Linked DNA regions of Homo sapiens. The protein of the gene in region 3 purifies or fractionates together with the protein of the main gene of each other region. This does not show direct contact. Each region holds a gene or a part of one and is shown on either strand. Other genes may lie near its edges.

What was found.
Region 1: the proteins of LUC7L (region 3) and PPIG purify together in Homo sapiens (affinity purification with mass spectrometry; 3 studies listed by BioGRID and IntAct, with this or other methods). This does not show direct contact.
Region 2: the proteins of LUC7L (region 3) and PRRC2A purify together in Homo sapiens (affinity purification with mass spectrometry; 2 studies listed by BioGRID and IntAct, with this or other methods). This does not show direct contact.

Annotation. Positions count from the first base shown.
Region 1 is NC_000002.12:169,629,262-169,632,912, forward strand, and holds part of PPIG (peptidyl-prolyl cis-trans isomerase G), read left to right. Parts: intron 1-1,512; coding exon 1,513-1,726; intron 1,727-2,337; coding exon of another isoform or gene 2,338-2,386; intron 2,387-2,504; coding exon 2,505-2,672; intron 2,673-3,651. UniProt on the Homo sapiens protein: PPIase that catalyzes the cis-trans isomerization of proline imidic peptide bonds in oligopeptides and may therefore assist protein folding. May be implicated in the folding, transport, and assembly of proteins.
Region 2 is NC_000006.12:31,623,571-31,627,221, forward strand, and holds part of PRRC2A (protein PRRC2A), read left to right. Parts: intron 1-161; coding exon 162-339; intron 340-690; coding exon 691-790; intron 791-879; coding exon 880-952; intron 953-1,600; coding exon 1,601-1,744; intron 1,745-1,889; coding exon 1,890-2,041; intron 2,042-2,221; coding exon 2,222-2,301; intron 2,302-2,449; coding exon 2,450-2,592; intron 2,593-3,201; coding exon 3,202-3,292; intron 3,293-3,411; coding exon 3,412-3,628; intron 3,629-3,651. UniProt on the Homo sapiens protein: May play a role in the regulation of pre-mRNA splicing.
Region 3 is NC_000016.10:222,803-226,453, reverse strand, and holds part of LUC7L (putative RNA-binding protein Luc7-like 1), read left to right. Parts: intron 1-3,651. UniProt on the Homo sapiens protein: May bind to RNA via its Arg/Ser-rich domain.

The DNA.
Region 1 (3,651 bases), on a different chromosome or scaffold from region 3:
ATTATTTTGAAACAAATTCCAGGCATAATATTTTATCAATAAATGTTATTTCTAAAAGATGATTCTTAAAAACAGTACCATAATGATACACACATACACATTCCTAAATACTAAAAATCCTGACAGTGTTCAGATTGTAATTGTTTCATTAATGTTAATTAATTTTTTGCTGTGTGAATCAATCCAAATGAAGTTCAGACATTGAAATTGGTCTTGTAAGTTGTGTTTTGTTTCTTAATAAATTCCCTCACCATCTTGTTTTATGTTTCCTTGAAATGTATTTCTCAGAAAAGGTAGGTCATTTGTCATGTAGCATTTTCTATAATTGAACATACTGGATTTTACTAATTGAGTCCTTACTGTGTTATGTAATGTTGATCAGATGCAGTTGTGACTTGAAATTCCTTTTAATGAAAACAGGAGTCACACAGGACAAGTTGTCTCTGTGTTTTGCAGCAGCCATGGGTTATCAGTGCCTCACAAGAAGTTGTAAAACGATATTTTAACACTATAATTTCTTTTTCATTTATTCCTGGAATGCTTCTGACAAAGAGCTATTTCCCTTCATTCATTTCATTAGCCAGTGGTGCAGTTTGTACCACAAAGGCAAGATAAATGCTTTATACTTTATGAGTATCACTGTGAACTAATGTATTTCTAATATAATCTGATATATCTCAATTTATTGTAGTTCTCATGTATATATCAATATTGTCCCATCTTTGGCCCCAGTTAGCCTCTTCAAATCCACCATGATTTGAATGAGTATACCTTTAGATGGGTCAAGCTCCTCCCAATTTGTAGTATCTTCTTCTAATTCTTGTTATGTTACACCTTCTAGCTTCACTTATTTATATTAATTGATCCTTTAAACTCTGAGTTTTTTTTTTTTTACCCTTTTTAAAGTTACTGCTTCCTTAACTGAAATAAAATTTCAATTTAAAATGACTTTTTGTAGAGTCCCCAAAACATTCTATTCATCATGGGCAATTGACTTCCCTCTGTTATGAGTCTCCTCTTGAGCTAAATTTCTTAATTATTAGAAGACTGCTTGGGCACTGAAATATAAGCCCATGCCAGTGAAATCCATTTCTTATCTCTCCATGTTGCTGTAAAGCAGTTTTTCTGTTATTTCCCTGCACTAGTTCTGCCAATCTTGATAATAAGAGGGAAAGTGGAAAACTACAAGATTAGAACATGGGACTCTTCATTGTTATTCTGTGCTTTTAAAAAAAATTCTTATTCAGATGTTTGTTAACATTAGTTTAGCATTTTAGACTCACCTATTTTTTAAAGTTCTTTGGATTAATAGATAAAACTTTGACCAGTGAATTCTGGAGATCTGGACTCTAATCCTGAGTCTTGACTCCTTTCCTGTACTTCCCAGTTCACATAGCTGGATGATCTAAGTGCTAAATACTGAACTTAGTGAGAATCTGCAGAAAATTTAAATCTCCTTCCACAAAGTTTGTCTAAAAATTGTTGATCAAAACCTTTTTGTTTTTATTAAAGTTAAGAAAGAAGAAAAGAAAAGGCATAAATCATCATCATCTTCCTCCTCCTCATCTAGTGACTCAGATAGCTCAAGTGATTCTCAGTCCTCTTCTGATTCCTCTGATTCCGAAAGTGCTACTGAAGAGAAATCAAAGAAAAGAAAAAAGAAACATCGGAAAAATTCCCGAAAACACAAGAAAGAAAAGAAAAAGCGAAAGAAAAGCAAGAAGAGGTCTTAATTTTACTTTTCTAATGCTAGCTTTATATTCTGATTTCCTTTCTGTAAATCTGTTAGGATTTTGGGTCAATTATATGAAACTGTTAAAATAGTGAGAAATATAGCATGGAGCGTAGGACTTTTGATATTCCACAGTCTATAGATTAAATTTTGGGTACGTTCATTTTCTTTTGAAAGAAAACCTATCAGTTCATTTTTTTGTGTACTCAATGAAATAATACAGCTTTGGTGTTACAGATTTGTGTGTTTTATAGGAGGATTATGGGATTTATGAAAATTGCAGAAAACCACCAGTTGTTTTTCCTATTTTCAGTAGCAGTCCCCTTTGCTCTTACGATAGCATAAGGATAGAAAGCAGATAATGTCAGTGTATTTTACTTTCTTTTCCATTTTGCTTGAAATAATCTGTGTTTGTACTAAAACTTGTCTTCATCTGCCTATGGCTCAAATGCAGTTAATTTCTTTACCCATGTTTTAAAGTATTTTAAATTTATCAGAGTGCATTGCTCACATAGTTTCATATTTTTTATCCATTTTGTAGGAAAATATTTTTTGAGAGTGTGATAATCGAAACGTTTTGTTTTGTTTGTTTTTTGATTGGTTAGTTGGTTTGTCAGAGGAATAGAAGATTTTTCCCATGCGATCACATCTTTGGTAAGGACAGGATGTTTATATTATAGTGATATAAAGGAAAGAAATACCAACAATTGGATACTTCCGTAAGGACATAATAACCAACTGTAACTTGTTTTGTGTGTTTCTGTCTGTTAAGTGCATCTAGTGAGAGTGAAGCTGAAAATCTTGAAGCACAACCCCAGTCTACTGTCCGTCCAGAAGAGATCCCTCCTATACCTGAAAATAGATTCCTAATGAGAAAAAGTCCTCCTAAAGCTGATGAGAAGGAAAGGAAAAACAGAGAGAGAGAAAGGGAAAGAGAGTGGTATGTGAATATGTATATTTTGCCTTACATGGTTTACCATAGAACTTTTCTTTTTAAAAAGTTATTTATTTTAAACAAGATTTAATTGGTGACCTTGTCCCAAGATTGAAATCTTTTTTATAAAATGTTCTTCCGCAAAGTTCTTTTTTGCCAACCACATAACTAGAAAGGGAAATTGACTTAAATTACAAGTAGGTTCTGAAGTAAAGTTACACATAATAAACACTAATACAAAAAAGAGATGTTAAGCAGCATTCCAAGCCAATAACAAGATACTCTTTAACCAGTAAAACAAGATAGTGTTTTATAGTGTTATTTGTGTACAGTAAACTCTTAAGCAAGTAAGAATCTTGGTTTTTCAGTTTGTCTAATAGGAAAAACTGCTGTTTTCCTTACTTGGTTTACAACATTGTAATAAAAATTGATGTCATGTTCAAATCCTGAAAAAAGTTTACTACATAAATCTACATTATTAATATCTGTAATGCTAATGGTTCTTTATCAGTCATTTTAATAACTATGTCCAGGCTGGGCGCAGTGGCTCACGCCTGTAATCCCAGCACTTTGGGAGGCTGAGGCGGGCAGATCACGAGGTCAGGAGATGGAGACCATCCTGGCTAACATGGTGAAACCCCATCTCTACTAAAAATACAAAAAATTAGCCGGGTGTGGTGGCGGGTGCCTGTAGTCCCAGCTACTCAGGAGGCTGAGGCAGGAGAATGGCATAAGTAAACCTGGGAGGCGGAGCTTGCAGTGAGCCGAGATCACGGCACTGCACTCCAGCCTGGGTGACAGAGTGAGACTCCGTCTCAAAAATAATAATAATAATAATAACTATGTCCAAAAGTAGAAAAAGGAATATTGAAATATTTTTCTTAGTTATGATCAGAAATACATTGTCATAATACAAGTAATAAAATTCTTGGCCAGGCATAGTGGCTCACACCTATAATCCCAGCACTTTGGGAGGCCAAGGTGG
Region 2 (3,651 bases), on a different chromosome or scaffold from region 3:
TTTCAGAGATTATTAAGGGCAGGGGAAGGAATCCCTTCTAAGAGAAGTTTGGAGGAAGTAGGTAATAAAATATTCAACATGTATAAATGTGTCCCAGGATAGGAGGCCATCAGATCTCCCACATGAGGCATTTTCGACCCTCTCTCCGTCTTGTTCTCCAGTTGCCCCTCGCCATGGCCTGCAGAGTCTCGGGAAAGTTGCCATTGCCCGGCGTATGCCACCTCCAGCCAACCTTCCAAGCCTGAAAGCCGAGAACAAAGGCAATGACCCCAATGTCTCACTAGTGCCAAAAGACGGAACAGGATGGGCAAGCAAACAGGAGCAGTCCGACCCCAAGAGGTAGACAGAGGCTTGGGGGACCTAGAGTGATGGGTATTTTAACTTGAACTTCAGGGAGCATTGGGGCTTGGTTTAGTCCAGCCACGTCTGAGCCAGAGACGAAGAGGTCCCTTTCTTACCTATTGCAGGTTCCTTGTTAAATGACTAAGGAATGGTACTAAACTTTAGCTTTTTGTCTTGGAGAGAGAGCATGAAAAAATAGACAACAGCCTACAAAGGATGACAAAATTAATTTGTCCTTATATTTGTAAATGGTAGCAATGGGCATGATTTCAGTCCTGAGTCTCCACCAGTTGGAGAAGTCAGGGAGGCATCTCAGGTGTGAATAACCTTCCCATTCTGTCCCCTCAGTTCCGATGCCTCAACCGCTCAGCCGCCGGAATCGCAGCCACTGCCGGCTTCACAGACGCCTGCCTCCAACCAGCCGAAACGACCCCCAGCAGCCCCCGAGGTACCTGGAGAACTGGAGGGGTGGGGAGGAAGAATGGTTCATAGCTGCCCCACCCACATCATTTATCATCTTTCTGAACACTTCCCCAGAACACTCCTTTGGTTCCAAGCGGGGTAAAGTCCTGGGCACAAGCCAGCGTCACCCATGGAGCACATGGAGATGGTGAGTGCAGCACTTAATTGGGGAGCTGTGTCTGGGCACCATGGGATGCATGAACCCTGCACTGTATTTTCAGCCAAGTGACCTTGGTCCTCTTTGGCTAAATCAAGGACCACCCATATTCAGTTTCATGGAGGCACATGAGCAAGTTTAAGTCTCAGTCTTATATGATGGAGTGTAGTGGTGCCAGAACTGACCTCCTTGGGGAATAAGCAGTTATTCTGTAGGGGGGTGAGTTTGAAGGCGGGAAACCTGATGGTCTGGTACCTGTCAGAGCCTTCCACTTTTTTTTTTTTTGAGACGGAGTCTCATTCTGTCACCCAGGCTGGAGTGCAGTGGCGCAATCTCGGCTCACTGCAACCTCTGCCTCCTGGGTTCAAGCGATTTTCCTGCCTCAGCCTCCAGAGTAGCGGGACTACAGGCACACGCCAACACACCCAGCTAATTTTTTGTGTGTTTTTAGTAGAGATGGGGTTTCACATGTTGGCCAGGATGGTCTCGATCTCTTGACCTCGTGATCCGCCCGCCTCAGCCTCCCAGAGTGCTGGGATTACAGGCGTGAGCCACCGCGCCCAGCCAGAGTCTTCCACTTTTATAGCATGTCCTCAGGAAATGTCTTCTGTCTCCTGTTCTGCATCCCCATCCTAATAGGTGGAAGGGCATCAAGCCTACTGTCACGATTCTCTCGAGAGGAATTTCCGACCCTGCAGGCGGCTGGCGACCAGGACAAGGCTGCCAAGGAAAGGGAGTCTGCCGAACAGTCGTCTGGGCCCGGACCAAGCCTCCGCCCCCAAAGTGAGTGGCTGCCTTTTGGCCAAGACATTACCTATTGCATCTCAGAGCTAGGTGCTGGCTTATTCACCTTCCTCCCCATCACTTTCAGCTGTGTTCACTTGTCCTCCAATCATTGATACCTCTCTCTACCTTTTCCAAAATACAGATTCTACAACTTGGAGGGACGGAGGTGGGCGTGGCCCTGATGAGCTGGAGGGCCCGGACTCCAAACTTCATCATGGTCATGATCCCCGGGGTGGGCTACAGCCTTCAGGCCCACCCCAGTTCCCTCCCTACCGCGGAATGATGCCGCCTTTCGTGAGTCTTGGTGTCTTGTCTTGGAACGATTACACTGGAAGCTGGAGAGCTAGGAATCAGGACTTAGTCTTTGACCTATGAGATAGAAGGGAGGGTGGGAGGATGATTGATAGCAGGCTTAAGGAGCTAGAAGGGTATATGACTGTCCCTCTGAGCAGCTACTGTTGGACCCTTTTACAGATGTATCCCCCATATCTCCCGTTCCCTCCGCCCTATGGACCCCAGGGGCCTTACCGATACCCCACTCCTGATGGGCCCAGGTGAGCAATCCAGGTCTGGGTTTGTGGCTGGGGGCAGGGGAAGCTTATTGGGGGAGGAGATGGTTTTCTAGCCAGGAGGCTCAGTCTAGGATCAGTCTCGCATGTGGTTATACAACATGCCATATTTCATTTTCTTTTTTGTGTACAGCCGTTTTCCCCGTGTGGCGGGCCCCCGAGGCTCAGGGCCACCAATGCGCTTAGTAGAGCCTGTGGGTCGTCCCTCTATTCTCAAAGAGGATAATCTCAAAGAGTTTGATCAGTTGGATCAGGAGAATGATGATGGTTGGGCAGGTAAGTGGATATTAAGGGTCAAGAATTTGGATCTTGAAAGGCAAAACCTAATGAGGAAAAAAAAATACAGGGTTATGTGGGTGAAAGGCAGACATTGAAGTGTAGGAAGACCAGGCCCAATGGCTCACATCTGTAATCCCAGTGCTTTGGGAGTGTTAGGTGAGAGGATCGCTTGAAGCCAGGAGTTCAAGACCAGCCTGGGCAACACAGCAAGACCCCCCACCTCTACAAAAAAAAAAAAATTTTTTAGTTGGGTGTGGACTGTGCATCTGTGGTCCCAGCTACTCTGGAGGTTGTGGTGGGAGGATCAGTTGAGCCCAGGAGTTGGAGGTCACAGTGAGCTATGATCGTGCCACTGAACTCCATCCTGGGCAACAGAGCGAGACTTTTAAAAGGAAAAAAAAAAAAGAGTAGGGGAGGATGGATGGGGAATACCAAGTCCTTGCAAAGTGGTGAGAGGAGTAAGAATGACAAGACTTCATTGGTGGATCTAGACTTCGGAGGGAAGGATATTGGCATTGGTAGTCCATCTTGTTACATAGTTCCAGACTACCTCCCAAGATTGGAGGGCAGAATGCTTGGGTTACTAATACTCATATTTCCCCTCAGGGGCCCATGAAGAGGTTGACTACACTGAAAAGCTCAAGTTCAGCGATGAGGAAGATGGGCGAGACTCTGATGAGGAGGGTGCTGAGGGCCAGTGAGTTAGGGCCATCAGGGGAGAAGAGGAGGGGGTCTTGGTTTGTATTTTGGTAATATACTCTTAGAGGAGTATATTAGTTGCAGCTGATTTTAATTTCACTGTTGATCTGCTCACAGCAGGGATTCCCAATCAGCTTCTGGTGAGGAACGGCCCCCTGAAGCAGATGGCAAAAAGGGCAACTCCCCCAACAGCGAACCGCCCACTCCTAAGACGGCCTGGGCAGAAACCTCTCGGCCTCCAGAGACAGAGCCGGGACCTCCTGCCCCAAAGCCTCCCCTACCCCCACCTCACCGGGGCCCCGCCGGGAACTGGGGCCCCCCTGGGGACTACCCAGTGAGTGTCTCCAATAAGGGATT
Region 3 (3,651 bases):
AATGTGCATTTATTCGAAGTAAGAATTTGAAAAGACTGAATAGTGGAAGGTTATCTGTGGTGATTACGCCACTGAGAGAAAAGGAGTCCTGTAGAGACCACCCCCATTTTAAGGTTTCACAGCTACCTCACGGAGGTTAAAAACTATCCTCTCATTTTAAGGATGAAATGTGCATATGTTAAAGGAAGTTTTCTTCATGATGAATCATTGCTTATATTAGGGAGGAGCACCTTCTGGAAAACCGCTCAGATGTATTAAAACTTCTCAAGCTGAGTTTTCTGACAGCAAATGCGAAATGAATGCCAAACCTTGTGCCTCTGTTCCTTGGGGTGTTGTCTGCTGTTTGGCCTGGGATGGGAAAACGTTACTGTTTGATGCAGATTGTTGTGTGTACCGAGGTCAATACAGATTAATGATTTCAACTCGTCAAAGGAAGTTTCACTGTAGGGTATTTTCATAGGATGCACAACTTGGAATTCTTGATAAACCCATAGTGAAGGAAGTCAGAGGGAGCAGATAGATGTGCACTCTCGGGAAGATTTCAACCATGTTTTCCTTGGCCAGACCCTGTGTAGCATAGCTGCAGAATACTGGTGAGAAAAATAATCTGAGTGAGAGTATTTCTTTTCTTTTCTTTTCTTTTCTTTTTTTTTTTGAGACAGAATTTCAGGCTGGGTGCGGTGGCTCACGCCTGTAATCCCAGTACTTTGGGAGGCCGAGGCGGGTGGATCACCTGAGGTTGGGAGTTGGCGACCAGCCTGATCAACATAGATAAACCCTGTCTCTATTAAAATACAAAATTAGCTGGGTGTGGTGGCGCATGCCTGTAATCCCAGCTACTCAGGAGACTGAGGCAGGAGAGTCACTTGAACCCGCGAGGCAGAGGTTGTGGTGAGCCGAGATCGAGCCATTGCACTCCAGCCTGGGCAACAAGAGCAAAACTCTGTCTCAAAAAAAAAAAAAAAAAGAGACGGAGTTTCGCTCTTGTTGCCCAGGCTGGAGTGCAGTGATGTGATCGTGGCTCACCGCAACCTCTGCCTCCCAGGTTCAAGCCATTCTCTTGCCTCAGCCTCCCGAGTAGCTGGGATTACAGGCATGCACCACCTCGCCCGGCTAACTTTTGTATTTTCAGTAGAGACGGGGTTTCACCATGTTGACCAGGCTAGTCTGGAGCTCCTGACCTCGTGATCCACCCACCTTGGCCTCCCAAAGTGCTGAGATTACAGGCATGAGACACTGCGCCCGGCCAGAACTGTGTTTTCTGAAGGTTCCGGAAACTTTGGTGCCCTTCCTGGTCAGTAGTGTTAGACCAGTAGAAGGTACAGAAGAGAACACAGGTTGTGGAGTAAAAAACGCCTGACACACTGGATTTAGCAGCCATGTGGAATATTGTGGAAGGACTTAATGAATGTGATATTTCAGCTCTGCTTGATGTTGGGCATCCAGGGGAATGGCCAGTAGTATTTTTCCCTGCCTCCTTGGCAAAGCTGAAAAGCTACATCCAAAGAGGGTAATCATAGAACCCAAGCCTATCCTCAGTGTGCTTAAGCAGGGACTCTTTTGGGAGCTCTCACATTGAAAAGTAAGTGCTGAATTTTGCTTCATGTGAGGTTTTTTTTTTTCAGACGGAGTCTCACTCTGTTGCCTAGGCTGGAGTGCATGGTGCTATCTCTGCTCACTGCAACCTCTGTCTCCTGGGTTCAAGCAACTCTCCTGCCTCAGCCTCCTGAGTAGCTGGGATTATAGGCGCCCGCCACCACACCTGGCTAATTTTTTTTGTATTTTTAGTAGAGATGGGGTTTCATCATGTTGGCCAGGCTGGTCTCAAACTCCTGACTTCAGGTGATCCACCCACCTCTGCCTCCCAAAGTGCTGGGATTACAGGCATGAGCCACCGCGCCTGGCCTCATGAGGTTTTCTTTTTTTTTTATTTTGAGACTGAGTTTCGCTCTTGTTGCCCAGGCTGGAATGTAATGGCTCCATCTCAGCTCACTGCAAGCTCCGCCTCCCGGGCTCAAGCAATTCTCCTGCCTCAGCCTCCCGAGTAGCTGGGATTACAAACGTGCGCTACCACACCCGGCTAATTTTTGTATTTTTAGTAGAGACGGGGTTTCACCACGTTGGCCAGGCTGGTCACGAACTTCTGACCTAAGGTGATCCGCCCTCCTCGGCCTCCCAAAGTGCTGGGATTATAGGCATGAGCCACCGCGCTCGGCCTCATGAGGTTTTCTAATGTCATATCTTTCTTGACAGTTGAGTTTTTTATAATGGAAATCAATTTGTACTTCATACTTTGTTGTACTTCAGGTTTTAGGGTCTGCTTCCTTTGGTAGTAGCTTTTTCTTTGAACAACAAAGCCTTGATTAGTTTAAAGCATTTTTTCTGATAGCTGCCATTCATTTTTCAGCTACAATGCTTAGTTTGTGGAAACTATATATTTTAAAGGACAACACCCACAACTTAGAAGAGTGAATGAGGCCAGGTGCGGTGGCTCATACCTGTAATCCCAGCACTTCGGGAGGAGGAGGAGGAGGCGGGTGGATCACTTGAGGTCAGGAGTTTGAGACCAGCCTGGCCAACATGATGAAAACCTGTCTCTACTAAAAATACAAAAATATTAGCCGGGCGTGGTGGCGTGCCCCTGTAGTCCCAGCTATTCGGGAGGCTGAGGCAGGAGGATTACTTGAATCTGGGAGGCAGAGGTTGCAGTGAGCTGAGATCGTGCCACTGCACTCCAGCCTGGGCGACAGAGTGAGACTCCGCCTCAAAAAAAAAAAAGAAAAAACAGAGTGAATGAGGTAAAAGTTGTCAGATTTTCAGTGACAGTGATTTTAAGTGCAAATTTGGCTTCTAGAACCACTATTGTCCTATCTCTAAGTCTTCTATGTAACCGACCATAACGTGAGTCCCATCTGACTTCAGAGTAAGAATGATAAAGGAGAAAAGTCAATCTTTCGTCAAAATAAACATCACCATACAAGGCAGACCCGTTGTCTGCCGCCTCCATGTTAGCTTTATTATTGGTGATACTGAAGGATGTTTTGTTAGTGAGTATGCCACGTGCTTTCTTTTTTTATCTATTATTTTATTTTATTTTATTTTTTTGAGACGGAGTCTCGCTCTGTCGCTCAGGCTGGAGTGCAGTGGTGCGATCTTGACTCACTGCAAGCTCTGCCTCTCTGGTTCATGCCATTCTCCTTCCTCAGCCTCCTGAGTAGCTGGGACTACAGGCGCCCAGCTAATTTTTTTTGTATTTTTAGTAGAGAAGGGGTTTCACTGTGTTGGCCAGGATGGTCTTGATCTCCTGACCTCGTGATCCGCCCGCCTCGGCCTCCCAAAGTGCTGGGATTACAGGAGTGAGCCACCGTGCCCAGCCTAGCATGCTACATGCTTTCTATGAGACTGCATCCCAAGAGTCAGACATGCAAGCCTCTCTATTTTTTTCCCCCTCAAGATGGATTAAAGGTTTAAAGCCTTCCTTTCTTTTTTTTTTTTTTTTTTTAAAAGACGGGGTCTCTTTAAAAAGCTGGGCGAGGTGGCTCACGCTCGTAATCCCAGCACTTTGAGAGGCCAAGGTGGGTGGATCACCTGAGGTCAGCAGTTCGAGACCAGCCTGACCAACATGGAGAAACCCCATCTCTACTGAAAATA